Linked DNA regions of Homo sapiens. The protein of the gene in region 1 purifies or fractionates together with the protein of each later gene. This does not show direct contact. Each region holds a gene or a part of one and is shown in the gene's direction. Other genes may lie near its edges.

Region 1 (3,753 bases):
ATTTGGGTTGTTTCCACATTTTGGCTACTGTGAATAATGCTGTTACGAACTTTGGTGTACAAATACCTGTTTGAATTCCTGCTTTGAGTATATACCCAGAAGTGAATTTATTATTTAAACATTCTATTTTAAATTACATCCTGTAGTAAGGTGTACACTCCTTTAATGAAGTCTGCTAAAACTAGTTTCCCCAAGTCAACAGGAACCTCTCAAACTGTAATGTGAAATTATCACTGAGTGTTTTTTCTTTTTAGACATGGTCTGGTTCTGTCGCCCAGACTGGAGTGCAGTGGTGCAATCATAGCTCACTGCAGGCTCAGATTCCTGGGGTCAAGTGATCCTCCGGCCTCAGCCTCCCAAACAGTTGGGACCACAGGCAGGCACCACCATGCCCAGCTAATTTCTTTTTTTTTTTGGTAGAGACGGGGTCTCACACTCCGGGGCTCAAGTGATCCCCCAAAGTGCTGGGATTACAGGCGGAAGCCACGGTGCCGGGCCTTATGATTGAATTTTTGAAGCTTATTGTTAGTTATGTACTTCTTTACCTATGACACTAGACTCCCCAAAATGCCAAAAACAAGATTGGTGTAATTTATCATTGTGGTACCCTTAAGCTGTCAGCATAGTGCTTTGCATACAGCAGGCGTTAAATGTTTGAAAATACAGTTCCAATATATCATTTGTGGCATATTAATAGGCTATTAATTCAGTAGCAAAAACACCAGCTTTTGCATCTTTCAAAATATAAGTCAATCTTTTTTCCCTAAAGAAGGCAGCTTCGTCCCTCCCCTCACCCCCCTAATACTCTTCCATCATATACAGGAAAGAAAGTACTTATATATATTAAGTGGAGTCTCCAGAGGGAAGGATGGCAGGATACAATAACTTTTCCAAGAGATCAACAGTTCTATCCACAACACTCGGGGAAAACTATTTCGGGGGTCGGGTGGCGGTGGAGAGGGGGCGTTGGGAGCGGAAAGAACGTTTTTCTGAACGCAGGTGTCACTGGGCCAACTTCACCCAGCCTACATTCCTTTAAGGCCCCCGTGGACTGCTCTGGGATGAAAGCGGAGGCTGACTGGGACTCCAGCCGCCGGCCGCCTCGCGTGGAGCCTTGCTGCTCCTCTTGCCGCCTTCCGCTGGCCAGGACCGTTTTTAGGCCTTTGCCACGCCTCGGGAGCGCCACGAACTCAACAGCCGCCCAAGCCGCCTTCCGGCTCGCGGTCTGCGGACGCGCTCGGAGTTGGGGGCCTTCGCCAACAGCTGCCGTACCGTGCCGCGTCGCAGCCGCACGCTAGCGGGGTCAACGGCGCGGCAGGCGCAGGGGTCCTCGCCAAGGTTCGGAAGAGGACCTTGAAAATGGCTTCTGGGCATGCGCCACAGCGGCCGTTACGAGACGCAAAACCGACGCCTTGGAACTGAGAGCCTAGAGGGACGGAGCTCGGCGCACCATGAGGCTCCCGGGGCCCAAGGCCGACCGTGAGAGCGCACGAGGTTGGCGAGCCCCGCGGGGAGGCCGAGGCGCGGGTGCGGGCGCCGGCGTAGCCGCGGCGGTAGCGTCACGCAGCGAGGCCGTGCGTGCGCGGGCGTCAGGGCGGCGCTGAGTTGAGGACGCTGGCGGCTCCGCGACGAGCTTTGTTTTTTCGGTTGGGCATGCTGCTTACCGCAGGATGATGGAAGCGACGGCCCGTACAAAGACAGAAGCGTTGGTTTCAGTGAGCAGGGTTTCTTTTTCTTTTTCTTTTTTTTTTTTTGAGACGGAGTCTCGCTCTGTCGCCCAGGCTGGAGTGCAGTGGCGGGATCTCGGCTCACTGCAAGCTCCGCCTCCCGGGTTCATGCCATTCTCCTGCCTCAGCCTCCCAAGTAGCTGGGACTACAGGCGCCCGCCACTACGCCCGGCTAATTTTTTGTATTTTTAGTAGAGACGGGGTTTCACCGTTTTAGCCGGGATGGTCTCGATCTCCTGACCTCGTGATCCGCCCGCCTCGGCCTCCCAAAGTGCTGGGATTACAGGCGTGAGCCACCGCGCCCGGCCAGGGTTTCTTAATACAAGTTGGTGACTAACATGTTGCCTAGATTCCAGATTAAAGTCTAGTTGTTGGAGACACATGTGCAATAGAGAACTAAAATTTAAATTCAAGTTCGTGAGTGAATTGAATAGATGTTGGAGCATCTCTAGTTTATCAAGGACACTTTTTTTCCCCCTCGAAATTTCATTTTGACGATGTGTGGAAAAATTTTTGAAAAAATTTGAAGTTGAGGGTCTTAGCAATGAAATGGGCAGAACTCCTAAGATTGCTCCGTTTGTATCTAGTTGAACTATTCATGATAGTAAAGGGAAAGGATGGCTGTTTTCGCTCTTAGTAGGGTTTGACGTAGTGAAAAGTTACGCTTTCTGAGCCTGTTTGCGAATGTCTGAAAAAATACTGGATACATTCTGTGGATTAAATGGTAGTCCACATTTAATCCACAGATTGGCTATTGTGAATAATGCTATGAACTTCGGTGTATAAATATCTGTTCGAGTCCTGCTTTCGTGTTTTTTTTTTTTTTTTTGAGTACTCAGAGGTGAATTCATTATTTACTTTTAAGCGTTCTATTTAAATTATATACTGTAGTAAGGAGTAAGAAAGAGGCTTTCGTTCTTCCCTTCTGAACTAGGCAGCTATTTCTTTCAGGTATCGCTTTACAAAAACGGTTTTGTATTTATTACAGCTGAGTCAGTGCTGATTCTCTCAAATAGAGCTTGAAGGATAAATCTTCATTTTTGTTTCAACAAAACTTCGAAACAAAATGGAAGAAAATAATCTACAGGTAATGCCACCCTTCTTAGCTGCGTCTTTGACTCTTAAGAATTATCACCTGGATGTATTGTGAGATAATTGCAAACAAAATTGATCACATTTAGGTCCTAGCATTTCCCGGGGTGTTGGTTGAGGTAAACAAGGGTATACATAGATGAAAGAGTCACATTTGGTGTATGTAAGTAAAATAAATGTTTTTACTTTTATCACTAGGTGTTAAAGTAGCAAAATCTATTTTAAAAACACTCTAAGTAGTGTTCCCCAATGTGGTTGTGTATATGGATCACCTGGGGATTTTGTTAAGTTGCAGATTCTGTTTAAGGAGGTCTAGGGTGAGGCCCAAGCTTTTGTGTTTCTAAAGTTTCTAGGTGAAGATGCCACTGGTTTGGAAACCACATTGGGAGTACCTAGGGTGTAGCTCCCTGCTGTCCAGTAGCTACACATGGCAAGTGGGCACTTGAAATGTGGCTAGTGGAATTGAGGAACCGAACTTTAATTTTTTTTTTTTTTAAGACAGGGTCTTGCTCTGTTGCCCAGGCTGGAATGCACTTGCCCAGTCACGGTTAACTGCAACGCTGACCACCTGGGCTCATAACTTCATTTTTAATTTTAAGTTTAAAATTGGATATTTGATTACATTATTGGAAAAAAGTATGTTTGGAATAACTTGGGTATGTGCATGTATATTTTAAATGTAAAGTTTTTAAATCCAATACAGACAAGTATTTCTGATGAAGGTTTTGGAACTGAGACGCAGAAGTACAAAATATGTAGCACACTGGATTTTGAAGACTTAATGTGAAAAACAAGAATCTAAAATCTCTTATATTGATTTTATGTAAAAATTATATTTTCGATATATTGGTTTAAATATTCTAATTCCGATTATAATTCCAATTCTTGGGCTACAAGAAAGTTGCCTACTTGTATTTTATCTATTGGACAGTGC
Region 2 (3,653 bases), on another chromosome or scaffold:
ATGCACCTATAGTTCTAGCTACTTAAGCGGCTGAGGTGGGAGTATTGCTTGAGGCTGGGAGGCAAAGGTTGCAGTGAGCTGAGATCGCACCACTGCACTCCAGCCTAGGCAGCAGAGCAAGACCCTGTCTTCAAAAACACAAAAAGAAATGAAAATGAGGTCATATTATACATGCTATTATGCAAAGCAGTTTTCTGTTTTTCACTTAATATATTGTGAACATCTTTCCATGTATACTACTTTTTTTTTCCATGTACACTACTTATAAGTCTGCTTTACACTAACAGCTGCATAGTATTTTGCTGTATGACTGTAGCATAGGTTTTTTTTGTATTTGTATTTGTTTTTGGGTTTTCTTTTTTATGAGACAGGGTCTCGCTCTGTCATCCAGGCTAGAGTGCAGTGGCATGATCTTGGTTCACTGTAGCCTCAATCTCCTGGGCTTAAGCAATCCTTTCACCTCAGCCTCTTGAGTAACTGAGACCACAGGCACACACCACCACACCCAGCCAATTTTTAAATTTTTTGTAGAGGCTGGGCACGGTGGCTCACACCTATAACCCACCACTGTGGGAGGCCAGGGCAAGCAGATCACTTGAGGTCAGGAGTTCAAGACCAGCCTTGCCAACATGGTGAAACCTTGTCTCTACTAATAATACAAAAATTAGCCAGGTGTGTTGGTGCTCACCTGTAGTCCTAGCTACTTGGGAGGCTGAGGCAGGAGAATCACTTGAACTCGGGAGGTGGAGGTTGCAGTGAGCCAAGATCACACTGTTGCACTCCAGCCTGGGAGACACAGTGAGACTCTAGCTCCAAAATAAATAAATAAATAAGTTTTTTGTAGAGATGAGGTCTCACTATGTTGCCTAGGCTGTTCTTGAACTCCTGGGCTTAAGGGATCCATCTGCTTCAGCCTTCCATAGGCATGAGCCACTGTGCCCACCCTGTAGCGTAGTTTTTTTAACCACCTCCTTATTGATGGTCTCTCTCTTTTTTTTTTTTCTGTTTTAGATAGAGTCTTCCTCTCTCACCCAGGTTGGAGTACAGTGTCACACTCTTGGCTCACTGCAGCCTCCACCTCCCAGGTTCCAGAGCTTCTCATTCCACAGTCTCCCGAATAGCTGGGATTACAGGCGTGCACCACCACACCTGGCTAATTTTTGTATTTTTAGTAGAGATGGGGTTTCACCATGTTGGCCAGGCTGGTCTCAAACTCCTGACCTCAAGTGATCGACCCTCCTCGGCCTCCCAAAGTGCTGGGATTACAGGTGTGAGCCACCACAGCTAGTCTAGAATAAATTTCTTAAAGTGAAAATATTAAGCCAAAGGAATCGATTTTTGAACATTTTGTTTTATGTTATAAAATTACCCTCAGAAACTATGCTCCAAAGTATGTCTCTACAGCAATGAATGGGAACTCTTGTTTTCCCATATCTTTACCAACTTTGGGTACCAGTCTTTTATTTATTTATTTATATCTTTGAGACGGAGTCTCGCTCTGTCGCCCAGGTTGGAGTGCCATGGCGCGATCTTGGCTCACTGCAACCTGTGCCTCCTGGGTTCAAGAGATTCTCCTGCCTCAGCCTCCCGAGTAGCTGGAACTACAGGCGCGTGCCACCATGCCCGGCTAATTTTTTATATTTTTAGTAGAGATGGGTTTCACTGTGTTAGCCAGGATGGTCTCGATCTCCTGACCTCGTGATCCACCCGCCTCAGCCTCCCAAAGTGCTGGGATTATACGCGTGAGCCACCACGCCCAGCTAGGTACCAGTCTTTTAAATCTTTGCCAAATTGATATGGAGAAAGTCCTTTAAAAATATGTTTTTTGGATTATTGGCATAATTTTTTAAACAGCCTTAATGACATATATGATTCATCCTTGCAGTGTGCACAATTCAGTGATTTTCAGTGTATCCACAGAGTTTTGCAAACATCACCACTGTATAATTTTAGAATATTTCCGTCATCCTAAAAAAGAAACCCCAACCTCACAGTGAATTTCAGAATATTTAAAATGTCTGCTCCTTCAGTGTCACGTTTCAAATCTCATGCAAATTTTTCTTGCGGTCAACTATAACTTTGTACCCTATGGAGAAAGTAATTCTGGTTCTGGGAAACACACAGTTCCAGATTATTAAAAAAAAAAAAACAAAAAAAAACAAAAAACCTCTTTTCAGCTGGGTGCAATAGCTCACCCCTGTAATTCCAGCACTTTGGGAGGCCAAGGTGGGTGGATCACCTGAGGTCAGGAGTTCACAACCAGCCTGGCCAACATGGTGAAACCCCATCTCTACTAAAAATACAAAAAAATTAGCCAGTTGTGGTGGCAGGTGCCTGTAATCCCAGCTACTCAGGAGGCTGAGGCAGGAGAATTGCTTGAACCCAGGAGGCGGAGGTTGCAGCAAGCCAGGACCGCGCCATTGCACTCCAGCCTGGGCAACAAGAGCGAAACTCTGTCTCAAAAAAAAAAAAAAAAAAAAACCCTTTTCATTAGCTGTCATTCTCTATTCTACCCTCCCCCAGTCCCTCACAACCACTAGTATGCTTTCTGTTTCTGTGAATTTGTCTTTTCTGGACATTTTATATAAGCAGATCATACAGTATATGGCCTTTTATGTCTGACTTCTTTCACTTAGCGTGATGTTTTCAAGGTTTATCTGTATTTTAGCACCCATCAGTATCTTTTTAATGACTAATTTTGCATTTTATGGATATATCACATTTTGTTTATCTGTTCATTGGTTGAAGGACATTGCATGGCAGAAATATTTTTAAAGCTCTGAAGTTCATAATTTCAAGTGATTGTTACTTTACTGTTTTAAACTTTTGACCTGGCATGGTGGCTCACGCCTGTAATCCCAGCACTTTGGGAGGCCAAGCTGGGTGGATCACCTGAGGTCAGGAGTTCGAGACCAGCCTGGCCAACATGGTGAAACTCTGTCTTTACTAAAAATACAAAATTTAGCCAAGCGTGGTGGGGGACACCTGTAATCCTAGCTACTTGGGAGGCTGAGGCAGGAAACTCTCTTGAACCCAGGAGGCAGAGGTTGCAGTGAGCCGAGGTCATGCCACTGCACTCCAGCCTGAGCAACAGAGCAAGACTCTGTCTCGAAAAAAAAAAAAAAAAGCACTTATTCTTTAGAAGCTTGGCATAATCACATACTAATTTTCAGTTGTATCATGGAGGCCAATCGTTTTGCAAAAGTAATATAATTGCTATATAAATATTTGCTAATAATGGAAATTCTAATTTTGGCATGTTGAATACCTGGTAAATCAGTAGTTTGATTTATATTTTCCTAAAGATACGTAGTGCGTAAACTAAGTACTCTCTCTAAACCAGCACTGTCCAGTAGATCTGATGGAAAGATGAAAATGTACAGTCTAGTACAGTAGCTGCATGACTGTTCAGCACTTGAAATATAGCTAATACTACTGAGCTACTGAATTTATGATTTTAATTTAACTTTTTTATTTATTTTTTTTGAGATGGAGTCTCACTCTGTCGCCCAGGCTGGAGTGCAGTGGCGCGATCTTGGCTCACTGCAACCTCCTCCTCCCGGGTTCACGCCATTCTCCTCCCTCAGCCTCCCTAGTAGCTGGGACTACAGGCGCATGCCACCATGCCCAGCTATTTTTTTGTATTTTTAGTC
Region 3 (3,653 bases), on another chromosome or scaffold:
GTGAATCCTCAAATCGTTAATTTGGTAGATTCTCTTTTTTGTCTTCATACTATTATTTCTTTTAGCTTTTAAAAAAATTGTGTACTGCCTACAGGTCTTTATGGAAGTTTCACCTTTCTTTGTGTCGCACTGGCATCGGCTGTATAATTTTTGCAGCTAGACCACATTTTAAAAAAATCTACATTTTTGGAACTAGTAAAAGATACTTATTTGTGTTATTTAAGTATTCACGTCTTTTACCGTGGGTAGTTAAGTTTAATAATTTAAAAAGACACATTTTATCAGTAACAATGTTCATTTTATTTTTCAGACTCTTCCCTCTACTACTTACTCTGTATTTCTGTCTCTTCTAATGACTAGGAAAGGCAGTTTCTCAAAATCATCTTCTATTTAGTTGGCAAATGTGATAATGTGGGTAGTGTTCCTACCTTCCTGCTGTATGTGTTCTACTGAAATGAGATATAATAGCCATCTGGCTACAATTTTGATTTCTAAGAAGTTCTTATGTCATTTTAAATTCAAAAACTAAGTGTTTCAACATTTGGTCTCTCATATCTTAAGTTTTATTTTCTTTGTTCCAGCTGTTCAGAGATAGTGTGTTCTAATATCTCCACAATCAAGATTTTTGACTAAAATGGATCAGTACATGAAAAAGAGGGACTAGTATTAATTTTAGATCTTGTTAGTTAATCATGGTCTTACTAATAATTTGGCAAGTTCTTTAATGAGCCAAATCTTTGTATTTCAAATGCCTTGAAGTTGTTATTCTTTCCTATTAGTACCCTGATGGGAGGATGAAAACAGCAGAAAGGAGCAGCACCAGATGATCTTTTCATGGGCACGTACTCTTTCAAGGAATCCCATGGAGCTCAGTGAAATTACACTTTGGCTTAGAGATAATTAAGTTGTGGAAGGAGGTTTAAGAGAGGAGCTTAGGTGAAATTTGAGCTGTAAATGAGTATGCTAAATTAAAGAAATGATTAGTAATAAATGAGATTTGCTATTAAGAAATTCACTTTGGATCTGAGACAACATTTTACATACAATGTAGAAAACTTTATGGTCAGAACAGAACACAGTCTGAACCTAAATTAACAGTAGTGTTAAAGAATTCAGGGCGGGATATTATCCAAGAAGGCCTAGCCAGCTGCTCCACTTAATGTTACATCACAAGTGGTTTCTGTGTTGCTATTGTTTTTATTAGCATTTCAATGACTGTGTCATATTACATTAAATCAATTGGCTCTAACTTACCTAACCATCTTGCTGCTTTTTATTGTCTAGTTCTTGGAAAATATGTAATAATTTACTCTCAGATTGAGGTCATGTCCTTGTCAATGTCATACCAACCAGGTTTGTTCACTGCATCATCTGAACGCTATGTAGGTTTCTATAATTAGGCTCATTAGAGTGTTCCTAGATCCAAAGACTATCTAAAGATCTAAAGATTCATAATTCTAAAGTGAGGGTGTGTGTATAGTTTACAACAGATGTTCTCTCCCCACTTTTTTTTTTTTTTTTTTTTGCTGTTTGTGATTAACTGGAACTGCAATGAATGCCATCATGCTTTTAAGGAATTCAGTTGTATTGTTGAAAAATACAATTTTCTTAATATCTAAGGAGCTCTTAGTCAGTGGTAAGCACTTTGCTGAGATTTTGCATATACAGTATGTCCTTCGATCCTCACAACAACTAAAGGAAGTAGATAGACACTATTACTATTCCCAGTTAACAGATTGAGAAATTGAGGCTTAAAGAAATTAAACTTGTCAAGTTGACACAGTAAATACATGGTGAAGACAAGGCTTGAACCCACATCATCTTTCCGGTGTTCTTCTCTACAAGCAGTTTATAATTATTGACTTATCTTACTTTTTCTTCTTTTTGAAACATTTATTAATATTAAATCTCATACAACTTTTGTGAATCTAGAAAGCTAATTTTGCATGTAAATTTTAAAATTATTTTGTTAGATTCCCTCAGTTTGAGATGTTCTTAACCTGGGACCTTATGGATAGAATTCAGAGGATCCATAAACTTGGATTGGAGGTTACTAACTTCTGATAAATTGAGCATTTTTTTTTTTCCATTGTTAGTGTTGGCAACAAATACATAATATCATCAGTACATGTGACTTGCTAATATAATTTACAGATATTTCAGTATCACAAAGTTGAGGCAGATACCACAAAACATCATCTGCACATCACTATTTTGTTATGGTAGTTAGACCTACCACTAGATCCTGTTATTTAATACTTTTAAAAAAAAGCATTTGATAATATTTCAGTAAAACTGGTTTTCCTTGTAATCTGTATTTTATATTGAATGTTTAAAAGGATTGTTCTGAGAAAGAGTCCACAGGTTTCAGCAGATAGGCCAAGAGCTTTTGTGGCACAAAGCTTAGCATCTAAGGTTCTTTCTGACAAAGTTAGTTTGAAAACAATGGATATTGTTTAGTACAGAGTCAGAAAGTTAACTAGTTAAAAAACTGGATACGAAGAAGAGTCATATATAATGAAAAGGTATTTTACTTTTTATTGATTTGCAGATGTAATTTCTAGTAAAATTACTTCAAGATGTGAATAGGGTACTTGGGGTATGAAACAAATTTTTTTAAAGAGGTCATAAACTTAACACTTGCAGGTATTCATTTATTTTAATAACACACTTCAAAAGACTCCCTATACTGGTGATTGGTTTTATTCCCTATGGAATTTTGCCCTGTTTTTGGGGGGTTTCATTTCTATTGTACAAACTCAAGACATCGAAGATATGCCCTAAGATATAAAGCAATTAAACTGTATGTTAGGGCCTGGGTAGAGCTTGGAATTGTTAATCATTCTATTAGGATTTTTCGTCTTTTTTTGTTTGTTTGTTTTGTTTTTTGTTTGAGGCAGAGTCTTGCTCTGTCACCCAGGCTGGAGTGCAATAGCACGATCTTGGCTCACTGCAAACTCTGCCTCCCGGGTTCATGCCATTCTCCTGCCTCAGTCTCCCAAGTAGCTGGGACTACAGGCGCCCGCCACCACGCCCGGCTAATTTTTTGTATTTTTAGTAGGGACGGGGTTTCACCGTGTTAGCCAGGATGCGTCTTGATCTCCTGACTTCGTGATCCGCCCGCCTCAGCCTCCCAAAGTGCTGGGATTACAGGCGTGAGCCACCATGCCTGGCCAGGTTTTTTCAACATTATAGAGATAAAATGGTTCATTGCAGCTCTAGTTGAAGTCGTGAATAAAGATGAGATTGAAACTAAGATATGGATTTGCCAAGTATACGAATTAAATAAACTCTTGATCTTGACTAGGTTTTATTTGTTGGTAAGCTACTTTTTTGTGGAAGAGTATTTTGATACATAGAAATAATCCTCCCCCTTTGTTATTTTGCTCTAGTTTATTAAATAAATCATTTGATTCTAATAAGCGTAGATAAGGTGGTTAGTTTATTTTCTGGAAGTACAAGTAAACAAGCCCATGGAAACAGCACTAAGTGCTGAAGACTTTCTGCTCTCATAATGTTTCTGGTTATCGAAATATGTCTCCATCTGTAATTTAGCAGAAACTAAGAGAAAGAGCCACTTTTGCAAACCAGCCCATGAACTTTTAGCCAAATCCTCTTATGTAATGTAAGGTCAACAAGAGAGTATTCCCATT

The links.
Region 2: the proteins of HENMT1 (region 1) and RAD51C purify together in Homo sapiens (affinity purification with mass spectrometry; one large-scale study listed by BioGRID and IntAct). This does not show direct contact.
Region 3: the proteins of HENMT1 (region 1) and MTHFD2L purify together in Homo sapiens (affinity purification with mass spectrometry; 2 studies listed by BioGRID and IntAct, with this or other methods). This does not show direct contact.

Annotation. Positions count from the first base shown.
Region 1 is NC_000001.11:108,658,925-108,662,677, reverse strand, and holds the start of HENMT1 (small RNA 2'-O-methyltransferase), read left to right. Parts: upstream 1-1,584; 5' UTR 1,585-1,670; coding exon of another isoform or gene 1,671-1,715; intron 1,716-2,715; 5' UTR 2,716-2,793; coding exon 2,794-2,814; intron 2,815-3,753. UniProt on the Homo sapiens protein: Methyltransferase that adds a 2'-O-methyl group at the 3'-end of piRNAs, a class of 24 to 30 nucleotide RNAs that are generated by a Dicer-independent mechanism and are primarily derived from transposons and other repeated sequence elements.
Region 2 is NC_000017.11:58,712,995-58,716,647, forward strand, and holds part of RAD51C (DNA repair protein RAD51 homolog 3), read left to right. Parts: intron 1-3,653. UniProt on the Homo sapiens protein: Essential for the homologous recombination (HR) pathway of DNA repair. Involved in the homologous recombination repair (HRR) pathway of double-stranded DNA breaks arising during DNA replication or induced by DNA-damaging agents.
Region 3 is NC_000004.12:74,161,001-74,164,653, forward strand, and holds part of MTHFD2L (bifunctional methylenetetrahydrofolate dehydrogenase/cyclohydrolase 2, mitochondrial), read left to right. Parts: exon of another isoform or gene 1-779; coding exon of another isoform or gene 780-827; exon of another isoform or gene 828-1,253; intron 1,254-3,653. UniProt on the Homo sapiens protein: Bifunctional mitochondrial folate-interconverting enzyme that has both NAD/NADP-dependent methylenetetrahydrofolate dehydrogenase and methenyltetrahydrofolate cyclohydrolase activities.